Regions from separate parts of the Homo sapiens genome. Here regions 2, 3, 4, 5 and 6 are each linked to region 1. The links come from fine-mapping of genetic effects on gene expression. A gene starts in region 1. Each other region holds a variant in brackets. All regions are shown on one strand. Distances are from middle to middle. Region 1 holds the start of NUDT7 (nudix hydrolase 7). Region 2 overlaps LOC107984878 (a long non-coding RNA gene). Region 3 has its middle 27 kb from the start of NUDT7. Region 4 has its middle 43 kb from the start of NUDT7. Region 5 overlaps VAT1L (vesicle amine transport 1 like). Region 6 overlaps LOC107984878 (a long non-coding RNA gene).

Region 1 (5,368 bases):
CAACGATATTTAACATCATAGTGTGTAAACACTTTGTGTAAACATCGGGTATTATAAATATCACAGCGATGTTTCATCGGTATCACAGTTTGTAAACCTTGGATATTATAAACATCACAGCGATATTTCATTTATATCACGATGTGTAAACACTGGATACTATAAATATCACAGCGATGTTTGCTTAATATCACGGTGTGTAAACACTGTATATTACAAATATCACAGCCATATTTTATTAATATCACGGTGTGTACACACTGGATATTATAAATATCATATTGATATTTCATTGAGGTCATGGTGTGTAAACACTGGATGTTGTAAATATCTGTGATATTTCATTGATGTTATGGTGCATCAACACTTGATATTACAAATATCACAGAGACATTTCATTGATATCACAGTGTGGAAACACTGGGTATTATAAATATCACAGCGATATTATATTAATATCACGGTGTGTAAACATTGTATATTACAAATATCAGCCATATTTTATTAATATCACAGTGTGTAAACACTGGATATTATAAATATCACATCGATATTTCATTGATGTCACGGTGTGTAAACACTGGATGTTGTAAATATCACAGCGATATTTCATTAATATTTCATTTCATTAATAATTTCACAAACTGCCCCACTGACCTAGGGCCAGCCACAATATTACTTTCATGGGCCCTAGCTACTTTGTTTTTGTGCACCCCTTCTTCCATAAAATAATTTTAAAGTGAATATTTTATGACTGAATTCATAAAATGACTATCATCCAAGCTGGATTCATTATTATATATTGCTTTTATTACATACCTTTTCTTCTTCTAATTTAAAAAGAAATTACAATTAAAACATTTTCACAGGTCCCTAAAATTACTGTGTGTGTCCTGTGCCTGTAAGGGAGAAGTCAGCCCTACACTGACCCCTGGATTCTCAGCTCGCACCAGGCTCCCTCACACACACTGTTCTCCAGCCCCTTTCTGCTGTCTTTGCACAAACTTTGCCCTCTTCCTTGAACACTCTCCCTTGCCTTTTTCCTCATTTATGTCCTCTATCCCGCACAGAGCATCAGAATCCCCTTACAGCACAGATCACTGGGCCTGACACCTGGCTTCTGATTCAGCAGTTGTGACATGGGCCCCAAAGTCCACCTTTTCTTTTCTTTTCTTTTCTTTTCGTCTTTTTTCTTTTCTTTTCTTTTCTCTTTTCTTTCTTTCCTTTCTTTCTTTCTTGGTTTTTGTTGTTGTTGTTGTTGTTGTTTTGTTTTGTTTTGTTTTTGAGACAGAGTTTCGCTTTTTTTTGCCCAGGCTGGAGTGCAATGGCGCGATCTCGGCCCACTGCAAACTCCGCCTCCCAGGTTCAAGCGATTCTCCTGCCTCAGCCTCCTAGTAGCTGAGATTACAGGCGCCTGCCACTGGCTAATTTTTGTTTTTTTAGTAGAGATGGGGTTTCACCATGTTGGCCAAGCTGGTCTCAAACTCCTGACCTTAGGTGATCCACCCGACTTGGCCTCCCAAAGTGCTGGGATTACAGGTGTGAGCCACAGCGCCTGGCCCAGAGTCCACATTTTTAACAGGACCAAAGTGATCCTGATTCTGCTGGTCTGAGGACCACACTTTGAGAACTACTGCTTTCAAGATGAGCTGCACTTCTATTTCCTCTACCAAGCCTCTTCTGTCTCCTAATTGGGTCACATTTCTCCTTCACACGCTCTAGAAGGACCAAAGGCCACTGCTTTATCAGTGTGATTTTTTTTTTTTTTTTTTTTTGCATTAAAAACTTCTTATCTTCTTCTTCTTATTTTTGAGACGGTCTACCTCTGTCAGGCTGGAGTGCAGTGGTGCTATCACGGCTCACTGCAGCTTCGACCTCCTGGGCTCAAGCGATCCTCCCACCTCAGCCTCTTGAGTAGCTGGGACCACAGGTGTGTGCCACCACGCCTGGCTAATTTTTTATTTTTATTTTGTAGAGATGGGGTTTCGCCATGTTGCCCAGGCTGGGCTCGAACTCCTGGATTCAAGTGATCCTCCCCTCTTGGCCTCCCAAAGTGTTGGAATTACAAGCATATGCCACTGCATCCAGCCCTGTGTGATTAATTTATGTTTCTACCATTTGACTGTGAGCTCCACGTGTCTTTTCGCTAGCTGTGGGATCTGCACCCAGTGCATACAGGTGGTCGGTGAACAGGTGCTGACAGCAGTTCCAAAAAGTTGAATGAATCACCTTAACCTTCCAGCAACAGCGAATGCGAGTGTAAAATATTATCACCTCACCAACACTGTATTTTTTTTTTTTTTAACTCTTCCAGCTCTAAATTCCACAACTCCTCCTATACCTCTTGCTTCCATAGAAGCCCAAGGAGCCCGGCAGAAACTGCTTTGAGCAACCAGGAACACCCGGCCCTAAGTCCCGCCCCGCGCCTCTCCCCACCTCAAGTCCCGCCTCTGGCTATAAGCCCCGCCCCGCCCCGATCCCGGCCTCCGATCCCAGATCTCGCACCGCCCCGCCCCCTGTCTCCGCCCCAGACACCACCCCGCCTCGTGCTCTAAGCCCCGCCCCTCTCTCTGGCTTTAGGCCGCTCCCAAGCCCAGAGCTGCTCTGCGCAAGCGCGACCGACCGAGCAGCTCCGAGGAGTCCGCCCGGAAACAAACATTCCCCAGGGCAATGTCACGACTTGGTCTTCCCGAGGAGCCAGTCAGGTAAAGGCTTTCCGGGCCCTGGCACCCCGAGCTTGGTCAGGCCCGGCCTTGATCGTAGCGGAGGCCACCGGGGCCTTTTGGCCGGGACTGATTTTGCAGCTCCCGCCAGTCCACCTGCGAGCGCCGGATGGGGGAGCACTCGCCTCCAGCAACCCGCAGGGTCCCCGAACCTTTGCACTGCTCTGGCCAGGAACAGAGCCGGCTTAAGCCAGTATGGTTTACATACACGCTGCTCCCCTTCCCAGCCGGCTTGGCTGTTCTGCAATCCGCGTCTCCAGAGTTGGACCCCAGGACCCCCGACAGTGGCACAGACCCGCAGCAGGCAGCCCCGGATTCAAGTCCCCCGGTGGCTACTTTCAGTTGTGACCTTGGGTCTGTCAGTTTCGTAAACTCTCTGAGCCTGGAGGTGACCCTGTGATCACTTGCCGGGCTGTTGTGAGGATAAAATGAGAAACGTCAAAATTGAGACCATGCTCAGAACGGGGTGGCTGCTACTGCTGTTGATACCTTGGTGATTATTCCAGCGGCCAGCCCCTAAAGTGGACAGATAACGTTTTTGCAGCCTTTTACTTTGGCTGGTTTGTCTGGTCAGTTCTGTGGTTTCCGGGTGGTTAAAAGCCACCAGCCCACAGTTTCCTTTTCTGGAGGCTGGCCTGCGTGCATCCAGATGCACTGTGCAATCCCTGTGCCAGCATTCACTGATTTTTTTCAGGCCATTTGGTCTTTGAAATACACTGCCGTTACCCAACCACATCTGGTGAGCACCCTGCCACCTAGAAAGAGGCAAAAAATAGCAAATACCTCCTGCAAACAACTGCTTATCTAATGATGGGGAGATTTATGACAGTGGTTACCATTCCCTGAGCACCAGCTGTGTGCCAGCCACAGTATATGAACTGCATCATTTAATCTTCTTAAATATCCTCAAGCCTGACACAAATGAAGATGAAACTCAGAGAAGTCATTTGTATACACTTTTTTTTTTTTTTTTTTGAGACAGAGTCTCACTCTGCCGCCCTGGCTACAGTGCAGTAGGCAATCTCGGCTCACTGCAGCCTCTGCCTCCTGGGTTCAAGCGATTCTCCTGCCTCAACCTTCTGAGTAGCTGGGATTACAGGCATGTGCCACGATGCCCGGCTAATTTTTGTATGTTTAGTAGAGGTGGGGTTTTACCATGTTGGCCAGGCTGGTCTCGAACTCCTGACTTCAAGTGATTCACCTTCCTCAGTCTCCCAAAGTGCCGGGATTACAGGCATGAGCCACTGTACCAGGCCTCCTATATACATTTGAAGCCAATTCTGGGTATCTTAAATAGCTGATTCTGCCCACTATGCAAAGCTGCCTTCCCACAGAAAAAGTAAAATCAGCTGTTCCTTTTCTAGGGCTGCCATAACAGAGTACCACACACTGGGTGTTTTAAAACAATAGAAATGGTCTCTCATGGCTATGAAGCCTGGAAGTCCAAAATCAAGGTATCGGCAGGGCCTCACTCCCTTAGAAGGCTCTGGGGGTGACCTTTCCTTGCCTCTTCCAGTTTCTGGTGGTTTCTGGCATTCCTTGGCTCACAGCAGCATCACTTCAACCTCTGCCGCCATCTTCACATGGTCTTCTTCCCTGTGTGCATCTCTCCATGTTTTTTCTTCTTTTATTTTATTTTATTTTTGAGTCAGGTCTCACTCTGTCACCCAGGCCGGAGTGCAGTGGTGCAATCATGGCTCACTGCAGCCTTGAACTCTGGGGCTCAAGTGATCCTCCCACTTCCGCCTTCCAAGTAGCTGGGAATACAGTTGCATGCCCCATGCCTAAGCTAATTTATGCTTTTTTTTTTTTTCTTTTGTAGAGACAGGGTCTTACCATGTTGACCAGGCTGGTTTCAAACTCCTGGGCCCAAGCAATTCTCCCGCCTCAACCTCCCAGTGTTGGGATTACAGGCGTGAGCCGCTGCACTGGGCTCGTTTCTGCTTCTTATCAGGACAACAGTCATTGGATTTAGAGCTCACTTTAATTACATCTGAAAAGATCCTATTTCTGAATAAAGTCACACTCTGAAGTTTGGGGTAGACATGAATTTCAGGGGTGAGGGGATACTGTTCAACCCACTATACAAACTAGCAGTAGAACACACCTGTCAAAAGGACCAAAACAAGTCCACATAGGAAGGGCACCATTTGCGGTTTTAAATCCAAATGCTTGCATATTATTGGGAAATTGTTCTCAGAATGTGTTCCCCTGTCCACAGCGTCAGTAACGCTGTCATGAGGGAGTTTGATACAAATGCTAATTCTCAGGCCCTACACCAGAGTTACTGAGTCACAGTCTGGGACTGAACCTCGCAGTCTATGTGACAGCCAGCGCTCCAGGTGATTCTGTTGCTGCTAAAGCTTGGGAACCACTATTATAAGCAGTTGAAGACATAAGAGTTTGAGAACATAAGGGCCAGCTTAACAGAAGGTAGTCTTCTAACCTTCTAACCTTAACAATGACTTTTTCATCAAACCTGTCTTCTCTGAATATAATTATGGGTTTCAAAATTCAACTGTTGCATTATTGAAAAAACATTTTACCATACTTTATGTTTCAAAGAGAACCTGTGTACTAAACTGTGTGCTTAGAAGGTTTTTTTGTCATTTTCATCTTGCGAACAACCACGCAATTTAGATAGT
Region 2 (5,368 bases), 30 kb after region 1:
ATGTACAGATACAGTCTGTGTCCTACCCACATCCTTAGGACCCTACCATTGCAGTGAGCTCCAGATCACTTCCAACAGCCAACATTTGCATCTGTGTTCCTGCAGGCTTTTTCCAAAGCCACAGCAGGCCAGCTGGAAGTGACAGGGAATTAATGTCCCCTACATTAACCCTCAACCAATGACTGATGGGATTTTGCATATCAGTAGCTCAGGTTCTTTGCCCCTTGGGTGGGATAATTCTGAGACAGGTGTTCTGTACTTGCTCCCAAACTGAACTAAACTCTGGGTGCCCGCTGTGGTGGCAAGTTTCACACTTCTTTTCATTGGCTGCCTTCCCTTCTTTGTCTCATTTCTCCACTCCCATAACAATGTGCCCTGTAGATTCCAAATAAATAACTTGAATCTTGTCTTTAGGTTTCTAGGTAAACCAAATTAAGACACTCCTATATCTAATCCGTCGCCAAATCGTACTGAATTTATCTTCTGAATATCTATCAAATCTAGTTCTTCTCATCTCTACCGACATCAACTTAGTTAAAGCTGTCATAAACGTCTGAAAACTTTTGCATCTATCTGGTAACTATTACCCTGCACCATCTCTCTTCTATAGCCAGAGTTATTTTTCAATATAAATATCATCATATTTTCTTGAGGCACTCAAATGGCTTCCCATTGTTTTTTATGAAAAAGATGGATGGCTCTTACAAGGCCGTGTCCTGGCTCCTGTCTACCTATCTGGTTATGTGTAGTACCATGAGCCCCCTCCCTGCTCATCCACTCCTACAGCACTGGCCTGTAGAGGCTCAGTTTCAGTCCATGGGTGCCTCAGAACTCTTGCACAAGCTGATCCCTCAATCATTTCCCTTTGCCTGGTTACCTCATACTTATTGTTGAAGGATGCCTTCTCTGACACCTTAGCTAGGTTAGTTCTCCTTGTTATAAGCTCTCTTGGTGCCATGTACCTCTACTTCATAACTCCTGTCATAGTTACAATATGATATCCCCTTGATTCTTTGATTGATGTCCCCTCATTCTCTGGACTTCAACTTCCATAATGGCACAGTCATGTCTCAATTTTGGTCCATACACAAGAGTACTCTTAGCACTTGGCACAACACTGGGTAAAGAGTAGGTGCTCAATGGATATTTGTTAAATAAAAGAGTACAACTAAATGAGAAGTAGCTATTTCTACTCAAATAGCTAATTCAGTGGGCTAAGGAAAATTCAGTCTCTTCCCAACAGACTGCTTGACAAAGGTCAACCTAAGGTGGTCTAGCATTGTTGTAAATCACCCCCTCCTGCATTTACTGTATAAGGTATATAAAGTGCTCTACCAGAGTGGACATGAGTGAGTGGCTCCTATCTTTAACCAGTTTTTGCCTTGTAACTTAGTTATTTCCATACCTAGCTGTCTTGATGTACTATGAACTACCAGAGGAGCAGACTTAGCTCTTCTTTACCCTTCTAGCCTCAATGCTAGCCATATATTTAGGACCCATGCCCCTTCATATCTACAAAAACTTGCCTTAAATCCCCATTGTAATTCCAGTGGAAAGCTCGATATTCTCCCCAAGATTTATTCAAATCCTTCAGAGAGTACCTTTCTTCTAATCACCTTAGGTTCAATTTCCAGCTTCAGTGAATGTTAGTTCTGTATTCTGCATCTTGAGGTCTTTTTCCTTAGTGCCAACCCAAATCCAGGACAGAGACTGCTTCTCCTTGTTTTTCCTAAAGTAACTTGTATGTAAATCATTGAGTGGCTTTAATTGGAGACACAGGGATATCAGCCAGGTAAACTTTGATTGCAACATAAGAGAGCCAAACTTAAATTTGAATATTATGTTTTTCTTGTTCTTTAAAAGTCCTGTCCATTCTACCAAGTTGGGTATCAGGCTGATGCTGTATTCCTCCACATGCTTGTTCTTCCTTTTTGCTTTTCTCTTTGCTCCCACCACCAAAATGACATTCATTTCCTTTTCAGAGGATGGTGTCTATTTGGCTCCATGCATCTCATGCCCACTAGGACCCACCTTCCACATTCAATAAGCTCAGCAGTGAATTTTCCTAAATAAGAAGAGTTTATTTGTGGTACATTGGTTTCAATTACACTTTTTTCTCACTCCACTGGATATTTTTTAATGAAATGACAAGGGTCAAATGAGGACAGCCTTCTAGCAAAAGCCATGGGCACTGAATTGAAAAAAACATGCTGTGCAAAACACATTTGGTGGGTGAATTCATTGATCCAGTAACGAGCTTGATGAGCCTGAGCCTGAGTTGCAGTGAGGGGGGTGAATGATAAGATCAGGAGTGGGACTTGGAGGAATAAGCTGCATTTAGGAAATGAGCAGAAGAAAGGTAGAGCTAAGGCCATGAGGGCCAGAAGAGACGACTGGGGAGCAAAGGACGTAGGTGAGGGAGGAGGAAATGAAGAATTTATACTGAAGGAACAACAAGGATGACTTTTAGGAGGAGGGTGGTGAATGGAAGAACCCTGAGACAAAGGAAGACATCACCAGCCAGGGGAGGTAGGCATTGCCCCTAGTACTGTCCATAAATATGCTCTGTAACCTTGCAGACAGAAATCACAATCTTGCTGAACCTCAGGTTCCTTACGTATAAAGCGGATTGGAACTAGTTAATCTCTAATTCCTTTTCCTTTTGAAATCTCCAATTCTGGGTTTTCCCCAGCCTCATTTAAGCATATCCAGGTAATGAAGCCATTCTGCTTAATGTTTTACAAAGGAAAAATCTGACTGAGGAAAAGAAAAGGATCACTTTTTGTCTACTGTTCGAAGCTAGCAGCATGCATAGAGTTTATTATGTGAAAATGCCATTTGGGGAGGTTAATTAAAAATTCTGACATTCAGATCAGGGATTTGGGTCAGGAATGTACAAGTCCAGGGCTCTGGGTAGAATTAGACAGGCATCTAAACGTTGAACCTTATTAAGTATATAGTTAGGCCTTAGGA[G/A]GGGGACATTTGGAAGCTAATATTCCAAACCCAAGCCTAGTTGGCTTTGTGCATTTTGTTTGAATTATGACATATTTAATAGGATTTACCTGCAGAGCCTGTGCTTAACAATCTGTTTCCTTGGCAATGCAATCCTCAAACGGGCAAAGGCCATATGGAAAACATGGGTTATTTGGTAATTTAATAAGTGAGATGAGAGGAATAGTATTTAATTCAACGTACATATTTTTATCCCCTCTATGTTCAATAAGAAAAAAAGAGATCAGCATTAAGTACATAGCATGTACTTAATAAGTGGAAAGTACAATTATTATTATCAGAAACAATTTTTGTACTATGCTTTATATTATAATAGGTGCCCAAACATGTTATGCTATTTGTCCAAAAACACTCACCAGACAAAATAATTCTTCTTAGTAGTCCCAGAGGCGTTATGCTTCAGTTTGTTTTTCTCCCTCTTTGCTCCCTGCACTTCATCAGCAAGTTTGTTCATTCTGCTTCTGATTCACACCCTAAATGCATCCTGTCCCCCTTTCCACCTGTAGCACCTGGTCCCAGACTCATCATCCCCCTCAACCCCTTACCTCCCCTGCACCTATTCTTGCTCCTTATATGCCCTTCTTCACCCAACATCCAGAGTGATCTTTTGAAGTCATGAATAAAGTCATGCCGTTTCTTGGCCTAAAACCTTCTAGTGTCGTCCAACTGTGACTGACTTTATTTTTTTCTTTCTTTATTTTTCATTTCTGGTAGAGACAAGGTCTTGCTATGTTGCCCAGGCTGCCCTCAAATGATCCTCTCTCATCTGGCTCCCAAAGTGCTGGGATTGCAGGCGTGGGTTAGTGCGCTTACCCACCTGTGCCTGTAATAAAGTTCAACCTTTGTCTTTGGTTGACAAAACTGGCACATTGTGGACTCCGCCTACTTCTGACCCTTCTTGATCTTGGCCACTGAACTTCCTTCAGCTTGTGCTTCTTTCTCCTGTTGGAAACGCTATGCTTGCCCCCACCATAGTGCTCTTGCACTAGATGCCCCTCTCCCAGCAATTGTCTTCACCCTGGTTTTTGCATGGATGGCACTTGTTTTATCATCAGTTCTCACTACACCTGTCGTTTCCTGGAAGAGTCTAACGCTGATGTCATTCTCTCTCATGCACCCATATTTTACTTCCATATCTGGTATTTTTTGGGTACATACTTGGTTTTTTTTCCTATCTCTCACACTAGAACACAAGCTCTGTGAGTGTGGGGACTTTCAATTATATTTTATTTTCCATTAGGAATTCAATAAATAAGTACTGAGTGGATGAATGAATTAATTTGGCTGAAAACTAGATGGTCAAGGTCATTTTATTGCCAAGAAGTAGGTCAATACAAGAATGAAATCACAGTAATGATTAGGTAAAAATAAAATTCCCAAGCACTGCTACTTTAATTTGTATTATTTTTTAATACTGATGATTTGTTTCATCATGGGCTAATTTTAGTACTATTCATGCATATTTAATTATGTTTTAGAATTATTCATTTTTTTCTATTTTAAAGATTGTCTAATTTATTCTCAGCTAATTAGTCCAGCTTTATATTTGTATACATTAGGAAAAATTGAAGGCAACCTAGACACCAAACAAGTTGTAAATGGTTTAAATAAATTATGGTAAATTATAGAAAGATATATATGATTTCATTTTTGTCAGTTTTATCCATACTTCTCTATTTGTAAGGATATTCATAGAGGTGTTAAAAATTGTCTTCTCAGGGAGGAGGTTGGGATTATAATTATCACTTACATTCTTTGTTTTTTGGTAGTTTTTATTTTTGGGGGGCTTTTTTCCTAATTTTTCTACAATGTGTACACACTGCTTTAATAATCCATAAAAGTAATTTTAAAAACAAAGTTTTGAAAGGATATAAAATATAAGGACTTGGAATGTCTGAGTATGAGGAGTTTTTTTTTTTAACTTAAAAACACAAAATCCCCTCAAAACAAAAAACCTAATCCCTAAATTAAAAAAGATAGAAAGCAAAAATTCAAATTCTGAAACTAGAATTTTCAGGGACTGAATTCACCTAAGGTGATCAGAGGGAGGCCATCGTTGGCACATCTTTGGAGTACATCAGTTTAGCTGCCCAGGCCACACTTTAGTAGAATATTCATGGCTGCGAGACCATCTTCCTTCCCTTTCGTTCTCCCTCCAAGTCCATTGCTTGCGTGCGCCATAACATCACCCCTCTAACCCCAGTTTACTATATTCACACCTGCAGTAAAAAATGGCCACATATAAAACACTCTGAGAAGTTTGAGAAAGTTTTCTAAATGTAAGGAAGATATGTGAGGCTGTGGCTGCTCCCTCTCTTGGGTATCTATTTTCTTTAACCGATTCACATGGGGGCTG
Region 3 (5,368 bases), 27 kb before region 1:
CAACAGAGCAAGACCCTGTCTCAAAAAAAAAAAAAAAAAAAAAAAACACTGACCTATCGGTGAGTGTCCAAATTGCTTAGAATGTCCTGGATTCCCATAATAGGCTTACCCACTATCAGCTGTCCAGTCCCATCTGATGCTGCTCATCACCATGTACCTTTAAGATGACTCAGCTTTCTGGAGACCTGCATACTTCTTTTTGCCTCAGGGCCTTTGCACAGACTATTTCATTATGGCTGAAGTCCCTTCACTCCCCTTTTCCACCTGGTGAACCAATGCTCAGACTTGTCAACCCAGCCTCTATCTCACTTCCCTTGAGAAATCTCTTCAGTCTCAACAGGCAGCATTAACTCCTGACTTTGTGGCCCCATCATTTTTTAGTACACATTATATTCAAACCTATAATCCACTGACATTATTTACTTGTGTCTCTGACTTTACAACTAGGCTGAGACTCGATAGGTCAAAAGCTGCCCTACACGGAAGCACTTAATAAATGCTTACTGACTGGGCAGTTTTTCCAGTGAATTTCAAAGCAAAAACACTTTATCATTTTATTCCCTTCCTCCACCAGCACCATGGTTTTAATTTGAAAGAACCCTTCAAAGGAGGCTATGGGAAGCCATGTGATATTCCCTTAAGAATATGAAAGCCGAGGGTGATATTTTAACAAGCCTCCTTCTCTTACAGATATTAACAAGAATTGAGTACCCAAAAGCAGCTTAGTTTATACCTCACAGCACTATAGAAAAGGATCTAGCAGATGTCATCATCCCCCAAAGCTCCAGGAAGAGATATTATCACGAGTTAGTAAAATTTCTTAAATACTGGCCAGGCACAGTGGCTCACGTCTGTAATCTCAGCACTTTGGGAGGCCGAGGCGGGTAGATCACCTGAGGTGAGGAGTTCGAGACCATCTTGGCCAACATGGTGAAACCCCATCTCTACTAAAAATACAAAAATTAGCTGGGTGTGGTGGTGTGTGCCTGTAATCCCAGCTACTCAGGAGGCTGAGGCAGGAGAATCACCTGAACCTGGTAGGTGGGGGTTGCAGTGAGCTGAGATCATGCCACTGCACTCCGGCCTGGGCAACAGAGCGAAACTCTGCCCAAAAAATAAATAAATAAATAAATAAATCTTAAATACTACTATAGCAAGTGTAGTCACATGGAGATGGGACTGAGTAAAATGTTCCTCAAATCTGCCCTCCTGTCTTCAATCATCAGCCATACCCTGGGGCAGGGCACCCTGGGCTCCTACCTGAACAGGTGTGGCCATTCACAATTGTCCCACCCATCTCATCTCTGCTACCGCCCTCTGCACCTTCAGAGTCTTCACAGGTGGTCTTCAGGGCTCGGTCATCAGGTCCCTGGGGTCCTCTCCTCCTCTTCAATATGCCTCACGCTACTCCCCCACTGCTAGTGAGTTCTAGCACCTTCCCACCTGGGCGCTCCCTCTGCCTGCAGGTTTCTTCCCGAGCTCTTTTCAAGACTTATTGTTCAGCTCCTGGCTTACATATGACGTCCTCAGAGTCCTTTTCTGGCCATCCTATAGGAAACAAGCACCTCTTCCTTTCCTCATCACCACATTCTGCTTATTTTCTTTATCATTTTCATAAGTATCTATGTGGGGTCATTTTTAAGGCATTTGCTTCCTTTTAAAAAAAAATACAGACAATTCGGTCAAGATTCTGTGTTCTTTGTTCTCTGCTCTATTCCCGGAATCTAATTCAGTATCTGGAACACAGTAAGGACGTAATGTGCATTTGAAGAGAGGGAGGAGGAGAGAGAGAACATACTCATAATTTCCAAGAATCATTGCTTTCTGTCACCTACGTCCATTCATTTTATTAGAGCAGAAATGTGTTTTGGAAGTTGAGAATTAACAGAAAATATGTAAGATCAGCTGGGATAGAGGAGGAAGACAAGCTGTAGGGAAGCCTTTTTTATTTCCATGGGGCACTGGTACCAAAGTTGTTGAACTACACAGATGAAATAATTTTGCTGGTGAACATGGTTGTGTTTGTAAATTGTTTTATCCAAGTGTCCATTACGCACCCCCCTCCCTCATCACTGCCTTACCTATGAGGAAGGAATGAAGAGGGTTAAATTGTATCTGTCTACACAGTTCACTGGCCCTTCAGGGCGCACCATTCAATGGTGTATGTGTCTTCGCTAACCATATTATACCGTTTTTAAATGACCATCGCTCTGAGAGGAAGAAAGAATTCTTTACCAAAATGTCATAAATACATTCTGAGAACCATTGAAGAGCACTATAAAACTATCACTCCTAGACAGATCCTTAACTCTAATACATCTAATAAAGGCATGTTAAATCACTTTGTCTCGATAAAGTAATACTGATTTGGTTCCTCCCAGGCCCAAGTCGGAGGTAAAGTCAGTTAGGAGCCCTTCCCCGAGTCAGAGTCTGCTGCATGGCCTCCCTGACTCCTCCTCTCTTCTCCCCTATGACCGACCCTCTCCTTTTTCCTCCAGCTGCTTATTCCTATGCTATCCCATTTGCTGACTCCTCCTTTTCTTTTTAGGGGGTGGGTGGGCGGGGAATGGAGTCTCACTCCGTTGCCCAGGCTGGAGTGCAGTGGCGCA[A/G]TCTTGGCTCGCTGCAACCTCTGCCTCCAAGGCTCAAGCTATTCTCTTGCCTCATCCTCCCCAGTAGGTGGGACTACAGGCATGGGCCACCACACCTGGCTAATTTTTGTATTTTTAATAGAGACGGGTTTTTGCCATTTTGGCCAGGTTGATCTTGAACTACTGACCTCAAGTGATCCACCCACCTCGGCCTCCCAAAGTGCTGGGATTACAGGTGTGAACCACTGCACCCAGCCCTCCTTTTCTTTTCTTTTCTTTTCTTTTTTTTTTTTGAGACGGAGTCTCGCTCTGTCGCCCACGCTGCAGTGCGGTGGCACGATCGCGGCTCACTGCAAGCTCCGCCTCCCGGGTTCACACCATTCTCCTGCCTCAGCCTCCCGAGTAGCTGGGATTATAGGCGCCCGCCACCACGCCCAGCTAATTTTTTGTATTTTTGGTAGAGACGGGGTTTCACCGTGTTAGCCAGGATGGTCTCGATCTCCTGACCTCGTGATCCACCCGCCTCAGCCTCCCAAAGTGCTGGGATTACAGGTGTGAGCCACCGCGCCCAACTAATTTTTAGTAGAGACGGGGTTTCACCACATTGGCCAGGCTGGTCTCAAACTCCTGACCTCAAGTGATCCTCTCGCCTCGGCCTCCCAAAGCACTGGGATTACAGGCTTGAGCCACTGTGTCTCTTATGATAGAGTCTAACAAACACAATAGGTAGAGGGGCAAAGTGTTAACAGATAGAATTTCTTCACAATTTTACAAAACTCAATTTGTGCAAATTGAAAATGGTCCACCATTCTGTGAAACCTCTTTGTTTTCAATGCTTTAAGTGTAGAATCACATTTGCTCCACACAGTAACCTCATGGGTTAAATACCAGTAACATCCCCATCTTACACAAAGGGAAACTGAGGCCTGAGGAGATAAGGAGATTTTCCCACAGTCACACAACTGGGAGCAGGTGAAGTGAGGACTCTGGCAGGTAAGATTCCAAAGCTGTTGCTCTTTCTTCTCATGAGGCAGTTTCAGTCTATTGTTTGGTTTCAGCCAAGGTCCAGTTCACTGAATATCTGAGAGAAAAGAGTGTGAGAACCACCAGGGAGATGAGCCTGTTGCATAGCAACCCTGTGCTTGAGCCTGGTGCAGGGAGATAGGCTCCTTAAGTTTTCAAAGCACTGCCACTAAAAATAGCCCAAGAGATGACAGATAAATGTGAGGTCTCACCCAGGAAGAAAAAATCATCTTGCACAACTATCTTTACTGTGTTGTCCTTGGGGAAAACAAGATTATGGGATGCTGGATGTCTGCAACTTTTCTCAGTAGACACATTACTACTTCATCCCACTTATAGGTGAGGATGGCACCATTCATATGGTCCCCATGAAATATCTACTTCTATATTTTTTCCACTCCATTGCTGGAATTCAATTCAGATCGAAGAAAATGCTCTCTACTTGATTGCAAACATGGCCTTCAGCTTACCTGTATTTATCTCCCAGAAATTAATCATCTTGGTTAGAATTACCTTATGTGCAAACATTTATAATGCCTACATTTGTCACTCCTGGAGAGACCATGCCAATTACAGTGGCACCATCTATAAATCTCATGCCTTCCAAAGAATATTAGATATTTAATTAGATCTTGAAATCCCTCTTCACCTAGTGCCTTAAGGGTCTCCAGGTTCTCTTCTGAAGCTGGTAATTAAAGGAAGAACTTATCCTTGAGTCCCCTGTACCTCTGTGAGAATCAGGAAGGGCCCAGAGTAATTAAAAGCCTGAATATCGGCTTAGCTTAAGCAAGCACAAAAGCCAACAAAAAGACACGTAAATACAGCCATTTGTCCACAAGGAACTTCCAAACTACTTGGCCATTTGTTTATTCAAATATTCTATAAATATTTATTAAGGTAGAATAATGGTCCCCCAAGATGTCCATCTCCTAATCCCCAGAACTTGTGCATGTTTAATTACATGGCAAAGGGTAATTCAGGTTGCAGATGGCATTAAGAACACTAATCCGCTGGTTTTAAACTAGGAAGATTATCCTGGACTATCTAGGTGGGCCCATTGTAATCACAAGGCTCTCAAAAGTGGAGGTTGGAGGCAGAAGAGTCCGAGGGAAATGGGACTATGAAAGAAAGGCACAGAGAGATGGAGAAAGGAGACCACCAGCCAAGGAGCAAGAGCAGCCTCCAAAATACAAAAAGAGCAAGGGAACAGATTGCCCTGCCTAGAACATCCAGAGCCTCCAACCCTGCCAACACCTTGATTCTAGCCCAGTGAAGCCCCTTTTGGGCTTCTGACCTCCTGAACTGTTAAGATAAAAAAATTGGCATTCTTTTAAGCCACAAAGTTTGTGGCAATTTGTTGCAGCAGCAATGAGAAACTAGTATCAGCACCTGCTTAGTGCTTAACGAACAGCTTCATGCTCAGTACTGGGAACACAACAGTGAAAAAGACAATCACTCTCCCTGCCCTCCTGCAGCTTACACTCTAGGGATACAGATAAGAGAAGGAAACAAATAATCAGAGGCTGTAACACAGGCAATGAACATAAACAAAAGAGGGATCGACAGAGACTAACAGAACGTCATTTATTTCGGTGGGGAGAATGGCAGGTATCTCTACAAAGGTGACATCTCAGCCTAAAAGAAGAGAAGGGGTTTGGGGAAAAGAATTCTAGATGGAGGGGACTGCATATGCAAAGGCCCAGAGGTGGGAAAGAGCTTGGCAAATGCCAGGTACAGAGGGAAAACCAACGTAGTTG
Region 4 (5,368 bases), 43 kb before region 1:
AAATACTGGATTCCATCATAGCACAGATTATGCAACCTAGGGAAACCATTCACCATCTCTGAGCTTGCTTCTCTCATCTATAAAATGAGGCACCATTCAGCTCAATGAGTAGAAAAATATTTATAGAGGAACACAGTGTGACAGGCACGGTGCTTCATGCCAAGAACATAAGAAGATATTTCCTTCCTCAAATAGTTCACATCTGAACACATTCTAGATGTTTCTAAACTATAATTACAAAACAGTGCTTCTATCTCTGATAGAAGATTCTACAGGACACCACAACTACCGTTACTAATAGCCTATGTTTTGTGATACCTAATTTGGGCCAAGCTCTCCATATAAATTATTTTTATAATCCCTCACGATAACCCAGTGGGGCCGGGTGCGGTGGCTCACGCCTGTAATCCCAGCACTTTGGGAGGCTGAGGCGGGCAGATCACCCGAGGTTAGAGTTCAAGACAAGCCTGGCCAACATGGTGAAACCCCGTCACTATAAAAATACAAAAAACGTAGCCAGGCATGGCGGTGGGCGTCTGTAATCCCAGCTACTTGGGAGGCTGAGGCAAGAGAATCCCTTGAACCCGGGAGCCGGAGGTTGCAGTGAGCTGAGACGGTGCCATCGCACTCCAACCTGGACAACAAGAACGAAATTCTGTCTCAAAAACAAACAAACAGAAGCAAAACAAAACCCTCTGGAACAGACGTAATTTTTATGTTTTCTGACAGAAAATCTGAGGATTAAAAAATGTCAGGTACTCACTGTATTAGATTATTCTCACACTGCTAATAAAGACATACCCGAGACGGGGTAATTTATAAAGAAAGAGGCTTAATTGACTCACAGTTCAGCATGGCTGGGGAGGCCTCAGGAAGTCCACAATCATGGTGGAAGGGAATGCGAACACATCCTTCCTCACGTGGCAGCAGCAAGGAGAAGTGCAGAGTGAGAAGGTGGGAAGAACCACTTATAAAACCATCAGATCTTGTGAGAACTCACTCAATATCATGAGAACAGCATGGAGGTAAGTGCCCCTATGATTCAATTACCTCCCACTGGGTCTCTCTCACGACACGTGGGGATTATGGGAACTACAGTTCAAGATGAGATTTGGGTGGGGACACAGCCAAACCATATCATTCACCAAAAGTTGCAATGATAGTAGGAGATACCAGGCACAGTGGCTCATGCCTGTGATTCCAGCACTTTGGGAGGCCGAGGGGCAAGGATTGCCTGAACCCAGGAGTTCAAGGCCAGCCTGGGCAAGATAAAGAGACCCCATCTCTACTAAAAATACAAAAAATATTAGCAATGCACCTATAGTCCCAGCTACTTGGGAGGCTGAGGCGGGACGATCACCTGAGCCCAGGACATCAAGGCTGTGGTGAGCTGTGATTGTGCCACTGCCACTCCAGCCTGGGAGACAGGAGTGAGACCCTGTCCCAGGAAAAAAAAAAAAAAAAAAGCCTGGCACGGGGACTCACACCTGTAATCCCAATACTTTGGGAGGTGGAGGTGGGTGGATCACTTGAGGCCAGGAGTTCGAGACCACCCCTGGCCGACATGGTGAAACCCCATCTCTACTAAAAATACAAAAATTAGCTGGGCGTGGTGGCACACACCTGTAATGCCAGCTACTCAGGAGGCTGAGGCCGGAGAATCATTTAAAACTGGGAGGCGGAGGTTGCAGTGAGTCGAGATCACACCACTGCACTACAGCCTGGACGACAAAGCGAGATTTGGTCTCAAAAAAACAAACAAACAAACAAAAAAAGGTTGTAACATGTGGTAGAATCAGAACTCAAAACATAGGCGTGGTTGAGACTAGTGACTGTTCTTAATCACTGTGGAAGCCTGGAGCAGAAGACCCAGCTCTCCTAGGAGGTGAAAGGTTAAGTCTGAAATGTCATGCGATGCCTGCTTGGATTCTTGGGAATGATCTGTGCTGATCTTATAAATCTCTCTCCTAGACTTAAATTTCTCTACATACCTTTCAGTCCTTATCCAAGAAAAGTTGGCTTAATACATACAACTAGAATCGAGGCAAATTAGACTCCTTTAAATGCGTCCATAATGTCTGCTTCATGGCTCTTCAAAAAAGACATGCGATCCTGTGAAATGCTAATTTGATACATAACCAAAGGAAAGTAACATGCTCTTGTCTTGGCTAATTCGTAGCTGTTAGTTGAGCAACACCGTTTATTTCCAGGGCTAGCCTTAGATATAGCACAATTATAGAAAAGGGCTGTCAGCACTAATTGCTCCATTGCATGCCCAAAAAGTTCTACAGAATCTGAAATGCTGACAAACAGTCCAGACCCACTGGAAAACATCTGCAAATCATAATCTTTTAATTTCAATGAACATGGTGGAAAGTTTCAGCTTCAATGACTTACTAAATCCCTGAGCCATCTTAAAGTCTTGTGTTCTTTTCTTTCCTAAGCCAAAGAATAAAACAGCTTTGAAAGTTGTGTTTTTTAGAGTGTGGAGCCAAAATGACTGCTATAGTTGTTAATGTTTAAAATGACATTTCAGATATGCCATCTAACCTAAATGAAAATTTTAGAAGGCTATTGATCATTATAAAAATATTTTTAAAGATATAATTTATATACAGTACCATAAAATTCATTTGTTTTAAGTGTACAATTCAATGATTTTTGCAGTAAATTTTCAGTTATGCAACTAGTGCCATAATCCAGTTTTAGAACATTTCC[G/A]TTAGCCCAAGGAGGTCCCTTGTGTCAGTTTGAGGTTATATGCCTCATTTCCACCTCCAGTAACCCCTAATCCTCTGTTGCTAAAGTTCTGCTTTTCACGACATTTCACGTCAATGCCACCATAGAAACTGTGTTTGCATCTGGCTTCTTTCACTCAGCATATGTTTTTCAGATTCATCTACATTCTAGCATGTAACAGGGCTTTGTTCCTTTTTTATTCCTGATTAATATTCCTTTTATGGATGCAGTTCATTTTGTTTAAGCATTTACCATTCAATGGATTTGTGATTGTTTCCAGTTTTCAACCATTACAAATAATGTTGCTATGATAATTCATGTCCAAGTCTTCATGTGGACACGTGTTTTCCGTTCCTTTGTGTAGATACATTGTAATAGAATTGCTGGATTATATAGTAAATTTATGTCTAATTTTTAATACTTTGAATTTTATTTATTTATTTTTTTTGAGACTGTGTCTCGCTTTGTTGCCTAGGCTGGAGTGCAGCAGCATGATCACTACTCACTGCAGCCTCACCTTCCAGGGCTCAAGCGATCCTCCCACCTCAGTCTCCAGAGTAACTGAGACTACAGGTGCATGCCACCTCACCCAGCTTTTTTTGTTTTGTTTTGTTTTGTTTAAAGAGATAAGGTTTCCCTATGTTGCCCAGGCTTGTCTCAACCCCCTGAGCTCAAGTAATACTCATGCCTCAGCCTCCCAAAGTGTTGGTATTACAGATGTGAGCCTTTGTGCCAGGCCTGAACTTGTTTTATGTGTAACTTTTTAACAAACTGCCAAACTGTTTTCCAAAGTGGCTGCGCTATTTTACATTCCCAGGCTGGTCTTTATTTATTTATTTATTTATTTTGCAGGAGCGTGGGTAATTTTTTGTAGAGACAGGGTCTTGCTAAGTTGCCCAGGCTGGTCTCAAACTCCTGGGCTCAAGCAATCCTTCCACCTCAGCCTTTCAAAGTGTTGGAATTACAGACGTGAGCCACCGTACCTGGCCTCTCATACTGGTCATTTTTAATAAGACAAATGATTTTCTTAAAAAAAAAAAAGAAAGAAAGAAAAAGGAGCTATAGTGTGAAGGAAAAAAAAAAGATGCCCTGTAATTACCCCTGGGACAAAGGTGCTGTAGAAAACAGAATGTTAGCAGGAGCATGAGTTTCCTGAGTTGTTTTAGGAACTCCAAAATGCTGGGAATTTCAACTATCTTTAATCCAAAGAGCCTTCTGGTTTTAAGCTGCTTCGAACCTTGTTCTTGCTCCATGGTTGGGGAGAAGTTGAAAGGGAAACGACTGCTAGGTCTCTTAGTAAGTAACCCAGTAATTATATATTCAGATTGTCACCCTACCCTACCCTTCTACATTTCCCAGCCATGCCCTGGCCCATTCCTCTTTACATTTACAACAGCTTTCTGACTTATCTTACTGGCTCTGTGCAACTACCTTGAACTCCACTCCCACTTCTAAACCTGAGTGAAGTATTCTTTTTCTTGGTTTTCCTAATACCCTGTGTATGCCTTTTATGATAAGATTTTCTAGCCTCTCTCAAGGAACTATACTTTACTTATTTTTATCTCTTCAGTACTCAGTATAGACTTTGCCTCATTGTGTATACTCAATCATATTGCATGGACCAATGAATGCATTGATTAACACAGAATAAGCCCTATCTATTAAATGCATCATGGTCTTAATCTCGTTAACTGAAATATGTTACAAATAAGGATAGCTTTGAATATCTGTCTAGTTAACTTCTGATTTTCTACAAAAATAACTAGAAACTGAACCTAGAATTGGCTGTCAGGTCTACAAAAATGCTGCTGGTTCTATCTCTCATCAGCTTTGTGGCCTTGACCTCGTTACTAAATTTTGCTAAGCATCAGTTTCTTCACCTGAAAGCATCGCTATAACGATTAAATGAGATAGTCCATAAAAAGTCCTTGGTTATTATTTTATTACATCATCATTCTAACAATTATTGAATACTTACTACAATTTTTATGAATATGAGTACAGAGGTTGATGTGTCTTGCTCATAACTGTAATATTCTGGCCGTTATGGTGGCTCACACCTATAATCTCAGCACTTCGGGAGTCTGAGGTGGAAGGACTGCTTGAGCCCAGGAGTTCGAGACCAGTCTGGGCAACACAGAGAGACCCTGTCTGTAAAGAAAATTGAAAAACTAGCTGGGCATGGTTGTGCACACCCGGAGTCCCAGCTACTCAAAAGGCCGAAGCAGGAGGGTAGCTTGAGCCCAGGTGTTCAAAGCTATAGTGAGCCAAGATCACACCACTGAACACCAGCCTGGGTGAGAGAGTGAGACCCTGTCCAAAAAAAAAAAAATAAATCCATATTCTTTGCTACAGGGAATTGTGAAAAGTAATGATGCATATCGCAGTTCTAGAAATTTTTGGCTTTCGTCTACATAACGGTCTCAGGTCATCCAACCTCCAAATTATAGTCATCTATTGAGAGGCTGTGTGAGAGACAAGATCCTAAAAGCCAAAGGTAATGAATGATGAGGACTATATTAATAATGCACACACACTCTCCTCCATTTCATTCATATCCCAGTAGAAACTTTAAATTTCAGAACTCCCATTCAGGGTGATTCTCACCTAATGGAGGCTGGTTTCAGCACAA
Region 5 (4,000 bases), 160 kb after region 1:
GCCTTTCACTTTGCTACTTTCTGACCAGGTCTCTGGGGGTACTTGAGATTTCTCTGTCTCCCCATCCTCTTGAATCGGAGATAGAAATGAGGACCCTATGACCTTAACAAGATCCTGAGGTGACTTGTAGACTCAGACAAGCTCATGAACCACTCTCTTGGGTGATCATGCTTTCAATATGGTGGTTAGTTTGTCGGCCATTGCAAAGCGACATCCCTGGGCATTCACCTCACTACAAATTGACTCTGATCTATCTTCCTATCTGGAGCTATACTTGCTAGAATTATACTGATGTTGGCTTGAACTTTTTTGAGACCGAGTCTAGCTCTGTCACCCAGGTTGGAGTGCCGTGGCATGGTCTCGGCTCACTGCAACCTCCACCTCCTGGGCTGTAGCAACCCTCCTGCTTCAGCCTCCCAAGTAGCTGGGATTACAGGTGTGTGCCACTATACCCAGCGAATTTATGTATTTATTTTGGTAGAGACAAGGTTTCACCCTGTTACCCAGGCTGGTTTTGAATTCCCGGGCTCAAGCAATCCGCTTGCCTCAGCCTCCCAAAGTGCTGGAATTATAGGTGTGAGCCATCGTACTCGGCCAAACTTAGTTTTTTAAATATCATTTCAACACCCCTTCCCCAGCCCAAATTCCTTCTCTTCTTTGAAATGAACCACCAGTACACCAGCACCAGCCCATGTTGCTTTTTTTTTTTCTTCGCACGTTCCAGGGTATTTTTTTTTTTTTTTTTTTTTTAGTAATTTCAACTTTTTAGATTCAGGAGGTACCTGTGCAGGTTTTTTGCCCGGGTATTGTATGATGCTGAAGTTTGGGGTACAAATGATCCTCTCATTCACATAGTGAGCATAGTACCCAATAGTTTTTCAACCCCTGCCCCCCTCCCAGTCCCCTTTAGTGGTCTGCAGTGTTAACTGTTCCCATATTTATGTCCATGAGTACCCAGCTCCCACTTAGGAGAGAACATGCAGTATTTGTTTTTATGTTTCTGCATTAATTTGATTAGGAAAATGAGCTCCAGCTGCATCCACGTTGCTGCAAAGGACATGATTCCATTCTTTTTTATGACTGCATAGTATTCCATGGTGTATACGTCTCACATTTTATTTATCCAGTCCACCATTGATGGGCACCTAGGTTGATTCCATGTGTTTGCTATTGTGAATAGAATGGCAATGAACATACGGGTGCATGTGTCCTTTTGATAGAACGATTTACTTTCTTTTGGATATATACCCAGTAATGAGACTGCTGGGTCAAATGGTAGGAACTTTTATTTTTACCCCTCCCCAACAGGGGATTGCTGCTTTTCACAAGGGTTTATTTTTGCCCCCTCTACTTTTGGACTTCTATGTGCCAGTGCAGCGTCAATTGATCCACTCATTTGACAGGCATTTTCTGAGCACCTGCTGTTTGTGGTATTGTGCCAAGCACTGGGCTATTACAGCACATAAGATAGGTGCACTTTGGGCCTTTTTGGTTCTTATATACTAATGAGGGAGACAAACCCAAAATAAGCAAGATATGTTAATTAACATGATTATAAATGGCTATTAAACCTCTGAAGAGGATAAAAATCAAGTGCTAAAATAGAAAATAGCAGGGTGGGTGGAGGCAATTAAAACAAAGTGGTCAGTGAAAAGTATGGTAAGGAGTTTGGAATTCATTCTAAGTAT[G/A]GCACTATGTGCTATTCATATGCCCTCAAAGTGCCAACATCAGCTTCCAGAAACATCAGCCCCAAACATTCTGGAATGGATAATACTCCCTGCATTTGTGAGATTCAAATCAAAGGTCTTCTCTTTGCATTTGGGCTTTAAAATATGGGTCAAGGATCATCCTAACTACAGAACCGACAGGAGGAGCAAGAATGGAGTGTAATGAAGGATGCTGTCTGGAGTGTGTCCCCTGAAGACAGGCTTTGTGCCATGCACAGCTGCTCTGTTGCTGTGGCTGTAATTAACATGATGTTGACAGACTGCTGTGGGTAACCACACTGGTCCCAAATTACATACAATTGTAAGAAGTGTTTTCCCTTTCTCCTCTAAATGCACAATCCCAACACACAGTGTTAATGAAATAATTGCAGCGTGCCCATGCTCAATGAAGGCATTCATAAATGCACAGCCAGGATGGGGATGGAGATTCCTCTGCCCAAAGCAGGGGTTCCTATTTCCAGAACGCTTTGTACCTGGAGGTCAAGAATGAGGATGTTTTCTTTCAGAGGCCTGCTCAAACACTGAGGGTCATTTGGAAGAAAACTGAAGAGAGGGCCTACGAAGAGGTGGAACTTTGCTCTGAAAAGTCCTAGAAAAAAAATTTTTCAATGTATTCAAGAAGGGCTTAGAAATTAAAGGTCGACTGGAATTATACAGGAATTTCCCACTCAGCTATCTTAATGATGTTGCATCTTAAAATCGCTGCAGTTTGTGCCTCACTATTTGTCAAACATGCTATTTTCTTTCACACCATAACGATGATGATACTAATAGAAGAAGTTAACATTTACAGAGCAATCTGACTCCAAATTTGGAGCTCTTATTCACTAAACCAAAAACATCTTGTTCAAATTAAGATAATAAAAGTGGTGTATGTTTATAGAGCACCTCATGCGTGGCAGACACTGTGCTAAGCACTTGATATGCATTAACACATTTACTCCTCATAACCACCCCATGAGGAACAGTGAGGAAATTGAGCACAGAGAAGTTAAGAGATTTGCCTAAAGTCACACAGCTAGTAAGTGACAAAGCTGAGATTCAAAACTAGGCATTCAGCTCTATAACCTTCTTAACCACAACTGTACATTTGCAGCAAGCATTCATTCCACAAACATTCACTGAGGCATTGCAGATACACTGTGAATCAAGTTATTATTTTTCTATATTTGCTGTATTTCCCAAGTTGGTTTGTTTTAAATGAGGGTCCTAAAAATCACTGTCCCATAGAATAGAATTTTGGATGTAAGGAATACGTTAAGTTATTTAGTGATTTCCAAACCACATGCCTCACCACACCATCTGTGCCACAAACCCTTGCCAGGTAAGACCATCAAAACTGAAAGCCAAGAAACCTAAGGTCAAATGCGTGGCTCTTATTGGTCCCCCGGCCCTCTCCGAATGTGCTTTTGTAAATAATTTTGTATATGAACCTCATCATTGTTTTCAACCTGCCTTTTCCATGCTTATTCTCCTAGTGACACGAGCTTCCCAATTAAAAAAAATAAAAAATTTTCACTTTAGTCAGTCTCCTTAATTCTTTTCGAAAACAGGATATAAATGAGCTCAATGATAACATAAAGGCTATCAATGTTTCTAAATGCCCATCACATTCCTCTTTGCATCCTGTATTGAAATGATTTTGAACATCTTATCCCCTAGAATCCCCCAGAAACTGGACGCTTGGATTTCTAACCTATAACCAGCACCAAAGGAAAAGCAATTAAATCATAACAAAGCAGTTGGATCCCCATTTCTCTAGGTTTCCAGTGGATTATTTACTTATTTTGATATGAAGGGAGGAGATGACAGACTGGAAAAGAGATGGCCACATTAAATAGTTTGTAGGTATTTCACCCAGAACTTTAGTCCAGGGCATCTCGGCTTTAATGCTATGGATATTTGGGGCTGGGTAATTCTTTGTTGTGGATTATTCTTTGCTGTGAATATTCTTTGTCCTGAGCACTGTGGGATGTTTAGCTGCATCCCTGGCTTCCACCCACTAGACGCCAGTAGCACCACCTCCCGCTTCAGTCATCACAAACAAACAAAAATCCCCAAACAATATCAAATGCCTTCTGGGGGACAAAACTACCCCCAGTTCAGAACCATTGATTCAGTCCCAACAATTTGGCCTCATCATTTCTTCATGCTGTTACTTCTTCCTAAATCATCCCTCCTCCCTCTTCATCCGATGGATCCCTACCCGCCTCCCCAGATTTAGCCTTATCAAAACCACTCCCCCAGGAAAGCTGCTTCTGCAGTCAGAGTGG
Region 6 (5,368 bases), 36 kb after region 1:
CAGGGGAGAAAACAGAGATCTTCATACAGATAAACGTAGGAAGCCTCTGTAGGGCTCTGAGGTTCTAAACACGTGCTTGTATTAAACAATTTTGATGTATCTCCCCAGACCATCCCCTATGACTTGCTTATCAAGACAGGAAAAAAATCGTTCATCATTGTGCAAAATTTCAAGTCCACTAAACGATCACAAGCATCCTGACCTGAAAATATGGATTTAAATTACAGAAAAATATGAGAAATTATTTGGGAAAATATTATAAATAAGAAATAGTCTGAGCCATCATATTCAGAAGACATGTGTCTCTCATTCTGCAGATTTTCAGTACAACACTAAGAGTGCGTCGTTTCATGGGACTTGTCGATTTTGAAAACCTTCATTCTCTGCCCACATTGAGTAGGCAACTATTTCTCCATGGCTTCCTCTTCCACACCCACTTCTACTAGAAACAGTTGGGTCTAAAAGGACCCAAAGAACAAATGAAATGGACGATTACATATATTCATAGAGTTCTGTCACTTGGCTTCTTGTTTACTTGTCCTTATAATCCTATGTGCCAGACTAGAATGGCAAGCTCTGTTGTACAGTGAAAGATTTGGTGAATTTCAATGCTTGCCCAAGAACACAAGGCTACTTAAGTGAGGATTGCTATTACAGAACCTATATTCCAGCCCCACTAATGTTACATTTCCCATGAAAGACCAAAAGAAGAGAAATCAGATGTGTTAAGGGCTTGGTGGTAGCTGTGTTTTTCATCTATACAGCATGTTTTCATATTGCCTTTGGCTATTGATCATCAGTGAATTTCCAAGTTATGTGTGTGGATAACATGATTTGTTAAGCATGTCTGAACTGGATCTCTGTCTCTTGCAACCAAAGGAACCCCAATATCAAATACATTTACAGCAGTGGAGAAATATAATGCAATTTATCCATTGTGCCCTGAGATTTCCAGGCCATACTAAGTTCAGAAGACCCCTATGAGTGACATTTATTTAAAAAAAAAAAAAAAGGCCGGGCGCGTGGCTCATGCCTGTAATCCCAGCACTTTGGGAGGCCGAGGCGGGTGGATCACAAGGTCAGGAGATCCAGACAATCCTGGCTAACACGGCGAAACCCTGTCTCTACTAAAAATACAAAAAATTAGCCAGGCGTGGTGGCAGGCACCGGTAGTCCCAGCTACTCGGGAGGCTGAGACAGGAGAATGGCGTGAACCCTGGAGTCAGAGCTTGCAGTGAGCCGAGATTGCACCATTGCACTCCAGAGCCTGGGCAACAGAGCAAGACTCCTCAAAAAAAAAAAAAAGAAAAGAAAAGAAAAGAAAACAACAACAACAACAAAACTAAGCAGATGATAGAATAGAAATCGACTGCTGAAGAATTCTATCATTCCCTATCACTACTTGAGGCAATCCGACAAAATTCATTAATTTTAGCTTCCAGTTAATAATAACACATCAGGAGAGAAGCTCACTAATGAACTTTTTCATTTGGAACATGAGGCGATCGATGTTTGTAGGGCATGTAGCACTCTTAAATTGACACTTATATTCAGCTAGTAGTGGGAAAATAAAGTTGTGTTTCTTGGACTAAACTCATCAGATAAATTCTCTTGGCTGTAAGTATTTAGACCTCAGGGTTAGCTAAAACTAAGCAATCAGATTATCTTGAGATACTCACATTTTTCAGATAATTGTTCCCATATAAAATTTCCCTCGTCCTCCTCTGCAGTTGATCTTGGATGAGCTAATGAGAAATGAACCATGCAATATGTTATTAATTTATTGGGTTATCCTCCATTACCCTAAAGTTGATCAATAAAAATTAAATCATTAAGGGGCCAAAGTATTTTTAGAAACAATACCCAAAACACCTGGATTATAGAATTCTGTTCACAAGTTTAAAGTCCAAAGGAAAGAATGCATCCCACCCCTACCAGCACTTCCATAAAAACAATCCTCCAGCTGGGCGCGGTGGCTCACGCCTGTAATCCCAGCACTTTGGGTGGCCAATGCGGGCAGATCACAAGGTCAGGAGATCGAGACCATCCTGGCTAACATGGTGAAACCCCATCTCTACTAAAAATACAAAAAATTAGCCGGGCGTGGTGGCAGGTGCCTGTAGTCCCAGCTACCCGGGAGGCTGAGGCAGGAGAATGGCAAGAACCCAGGAGTTGGAGGTTGCAGTGACCCGAGACCGCACCACTGCACTCCAGCCTGGGCAACAGAGCGAGACTGTGTCTCAAAAAAAAAAAAAAAAAAAAAAAGATTAAAACTTGCTACCCAAAGTTTACTTTTCCTTTCTCCTCCTAACCTCTGATGATCTTCAATAATTTAGAAAAAATGCAAAGATTTCTCTTTATCTTCTATGCCATAAAACTATAACCCAAACAATACCAAGAAAAAGCTTGCTAATATAGGGCTTGTTCATTCAGAAGCTGCAGGAACTCTGTGGCAAACTCGTATGTCAGGTCACTTTGTTCCATCTGGGACCATAAGTCCACTAACTCATAAAGAACAATAGCAGACACTGTGATTCTAAGAGAATTGGTCACTTTCATCACAGCATAGAATGACCGAAGCCTTGTGTAGATTCGTTCCATTCCTCACCGCCACTCAGCATCAGTGTAACCATTCTCAGGCAGCAGAAGAAGAGACCTGCCAAGGCTGCATAGCTGGCGATGGATAAAGGATGTGGCTCCCTTTGTGGCTGATGTTTGGCTCTTGATACCATTGCTGTCCCTCTGTAGTTATAGATCTGTATCTAGTCTCTGGATCTAGATCTAGTCCTGGATTTGGAGCTAGTCTCTGGATCTGAATCTAGTCCTAGTTCTGGATCTAGTCTCTGGATCTGGATCTAGTCTTGCTTCTAGATCTAGTCCTGGCTCTGGATCTAGTCCTGGTTCTGGATCTAGTCTCTGGATCTAGATCTAGTCCTGGATTTCGATCTAGTCCTGGTTCTCAGTCTAGTCCTGGTTCTGAATCTAGTGCTGGATCTGGACCTAGTCCTGGTTCTGGATCTAGTCCTG[G/A]TCTGGATCTAGTCTCTGGATCCAAATCTAGTCTCTGGATCTGGATCTAGTCCCCATTCTGGATCTAGTCCCCGTTCTGGATCCAGTCCTGGATTTGGATCTAGTCCTGGCATTGGATCTAGTCTCTGGTTTTGGATCTAGTCCTGGATCTGGAACTAGTCTTAATTTCTCCTCCTATTTTTGCCTTTTCCTTGCTCCTTGGATTTGCTGACTGCCCTTAGCTTCTCTGATCTGACCCTGTGGGGTCTCTTACAGGGCTGATTCATACTCATGCACCTTCCTCTACATCCTCTCTACCACCAACAGGGAGGCAAGGCCCTTCCTTCTCCACCCTCTCAGCCCTCTTGTCTGCGCAGGGCTCACTCTGCCTTCTGAGCGTTTGGGCTGTCACTTTCCCTAAGAAGATGCCCTGATAAAAACTCTGGTTCCTTTTCAGCCTAGGTTTAGCAAGTCCAATTTCTGTCCCTGGTAATATGAGCATGTTTCATTGGAGGATGAAAATCTCCATTTAGCTGGGATCACTAATCTTTCTGCAAAGCCCCATAGCACATGTATATTATCCATGATTTCGAAAAGGTAGTAAAGTTAAAAAAAAAAAAAAAAGTAACCCACATATGTTGGAGTTACACAATTCTAGTCCCATGTGGGTGTGGCCAAAGCCATTAATCCTCTAGGCCTCCATGTCCTTATCTGTCAAACAAGCATTAGGATGCCTACTCTGCAGGGTTGCTGGGAATAATGGACATAATAAAAGTGTGAGGCCTCTGGACACCTGACCAGGAGGGGCACTGAATCATTGGTGGGATGAACATAGGTCCATCCTGGGCACTTCACTCATGCCCATCTGATTTGTGTCCTTAAAACTCTGTGCACACTGAAAATCAACAAAGAAAACAGTAGAGTTAAACTACACACTCCATCTAGTAGGCCTAACTGATATTTACAGAACATTTTACTCAAATGCTGCAGAATACACGTTCTTTTCACCTGTACATGGAACATTCTCTAGAATAGACCATATCTTAGGCCACAAAACAAGTGTGTACAAATTAAAAAAAAAAAAAAACAGAAATTATATCAAGAATCACAGCTGCCTCTCCAAAACTCTTTGTTTTGATCTGTCTCATCTACATTTGGCCATTGCTATTTTATTGCTACTCAAAGTGATGTCCCTGGACAAGTAGCAACGTCCTCACCCGGGAGCTTGCAAGGAAATGTGGAGCTTCAGATTCTTCCCTGGACCTAGTGACTCAGCATCTGACTTTCACCAGATCCCCAGTGATTCCTGTGCATACTGAAGTTCGAGAAGCACTGCTCTATTTCACACTTCCTCTATAATTACCATCTGTCATTCCTGTCCTATTATATCTGTTATCTGATGTATTAGGCTCCTATTGCTGCTGTAACAGATTTCTGCAAACTTAGCAGCTTAAAACAATACAAATGTATTCTCTTGAACTTCTGGCAGCCAGAAATCTGAAATCAGTTTCTTGGGCTGAACCCAAAGTGTTCGCAGGACCGTGCTCCCTCCGGAGGCTCTGGGGGAGAATTTGTTCCTCTGCCTTCCAGCTTCTAGCACTTCATTTCTTGGCTCATGCCTCCTTTCCCCATCTCCAAGCCAGCAGTATAGCACCTTGCTTCAGTATTCACACTGCCACGTGGTCCCTCCTCTTACCATCCATTAAAAGGACAGTTGTAATTACACTGAGGGCCCACCTGCATATTCCAAGATAATCTTCCTATCTGAAGATCCTTAACTTAATCACATCTGCAATGTTCCTTTTAAGGAAACATTCACAGGTTCTAGGGGTTAGAATGTGGGTGTTTTGGGGGGCTATTATACAGCCTGTTATACCTGGGTCTCTAATTTGGCACTTAGTAGGTCTTTAATAAAAGTTGAAATTTGTATTCATTTAGTGGCTGTCACAATTAGTATATGCTCACCTGGAGATGCCTTCATGGAGAAAGGCAAGTAAATAAATTGACTATAACCTATCGTAATCCAGTATGAATGAATGTATCCCTTAGGTTTATATGTTTCCAATGGCAGGAAGTAGTTAATCTCAAAGGCTTTACAAAAGTGGTGAGCTAAGTCCTGAAAAATGATTAGAAATGCAGCAGGTGACCAAGACAGGGAGAGACATTCCAAACAGCAGAAACAGCATTTGAAAGTGCATAAAAGAAGACATGAAACAGCAAAGCCCATCCAGGGAGCTGTAGCGATTAGGTAAACTAGAGTGTATATATGAAGCCAGAGAGATCAGAAGATAAAGCAAAGAAGTCAGTAAGAATCACATTAGGAAATGCTTTGAATGACTCACCAAGGACACTGATGTTCATC

The links. PIP is the estimated chance that this variant, and not a neighbour inherited with it, causes the effect.
Region 2: its variant is the best candidate, but not a certain one, in a credible set for the expression of NUDT7 in subcutaneous fat (GTEx, PIP 0.61).
Region 3: its variant is the best candidate, but not a certain one, in a credible set for the expression of NUDT7 in whole blood (INTERVAL, PIP 0.56).
Region 4: its variant is the best candidate, but not a certain one, in a credible set for the expression of NUDT7 in whole blood (TOPMed, PIP 0.55).
Region 5: its variant is the best candidate, but not a certain one, in a credible set for the expression of NUDT7 in tibial artery (GTEx, PIP 0.86).
Region 6: its variant is the best candidate, but not a certain one, in a credible set for the expression of NUDT7 in whole blood (TOPMed, PIP 0.62).

Annotation. Positions count from the first base shown.
Region 1 is chr16:77,719,913-77,725,280 of GRCh38, forward strand. It overlaps NUDT7 (nudix hydrolase 7), which reads left to right and starts at 2,602. Exons shown (of 4, transcript NM_001105663.3): 1 at 2,602-2,705. The coding sequence starts at 2,671. RefSeq lists an enhancer at 2,440-2,734 and a silencer at 2,448-2,577.
Region 2 is chr16:77,750,071-77,755,438 of GRCh38, forward strand. All of the region lies in intron 5 of LOC107984878 (a long non-coding RNA gene), which reads right to left. Among named protein-coding and RNA genes, the nearest start is that of NUDT7, 30 kb to the left of the region's middle. The variant G/A (reference allele first, on the strand shown) is at 2,974.
Region 3 is chr16:77,692,581-77,697,948 of GRCh38, forward strand. No RefSeq gene overlaps it. Among named protein-coding and RNA genes, the nearest start is that of NUDT7, 27 kb to the right of the region's middle. The variant A/G (reference allele first, on the strand shown) is at 2,610.
Region 4 is chr16:77,677,312-77,682,679 of GRCh38, forward strand. No RefSeq gene overlaps it. Among named protein-coding and RNA genes, the nearest start is that of NUDT7, 43 kb to the right of the region's middle. The variant G/A (reference allele first, on the strand shown) is at 2,719.
Region 5 is chr16:77,879,864-77,883,863 of GRCh38, forward strand. The region is part of intron 6 of VAT1L (vesicle amine transport 1 like); the gene reads left to right. Among named protein-coding and RNA genes, the nearest start is that of VAT1L, 93 kb to the left of the region's middle. The variant G/A (reference allele first, on the strand shown) is at 1,689.
Region 6 is chr16:77,755,708-77,761,075 of GRCh38, forward strand. LOC107984878 (a long non-coding RNA gene) reads right to left here. Exons shown (of 6, transcript XR_002957866.2): 5 at 1,680-1,745. Among named protein-coding and RNA genes, the nearest start is that of VAT1L, 30 kb to the right of the region's middle. The variant G/A (reference allele first, on the strand shown) is at 3,028.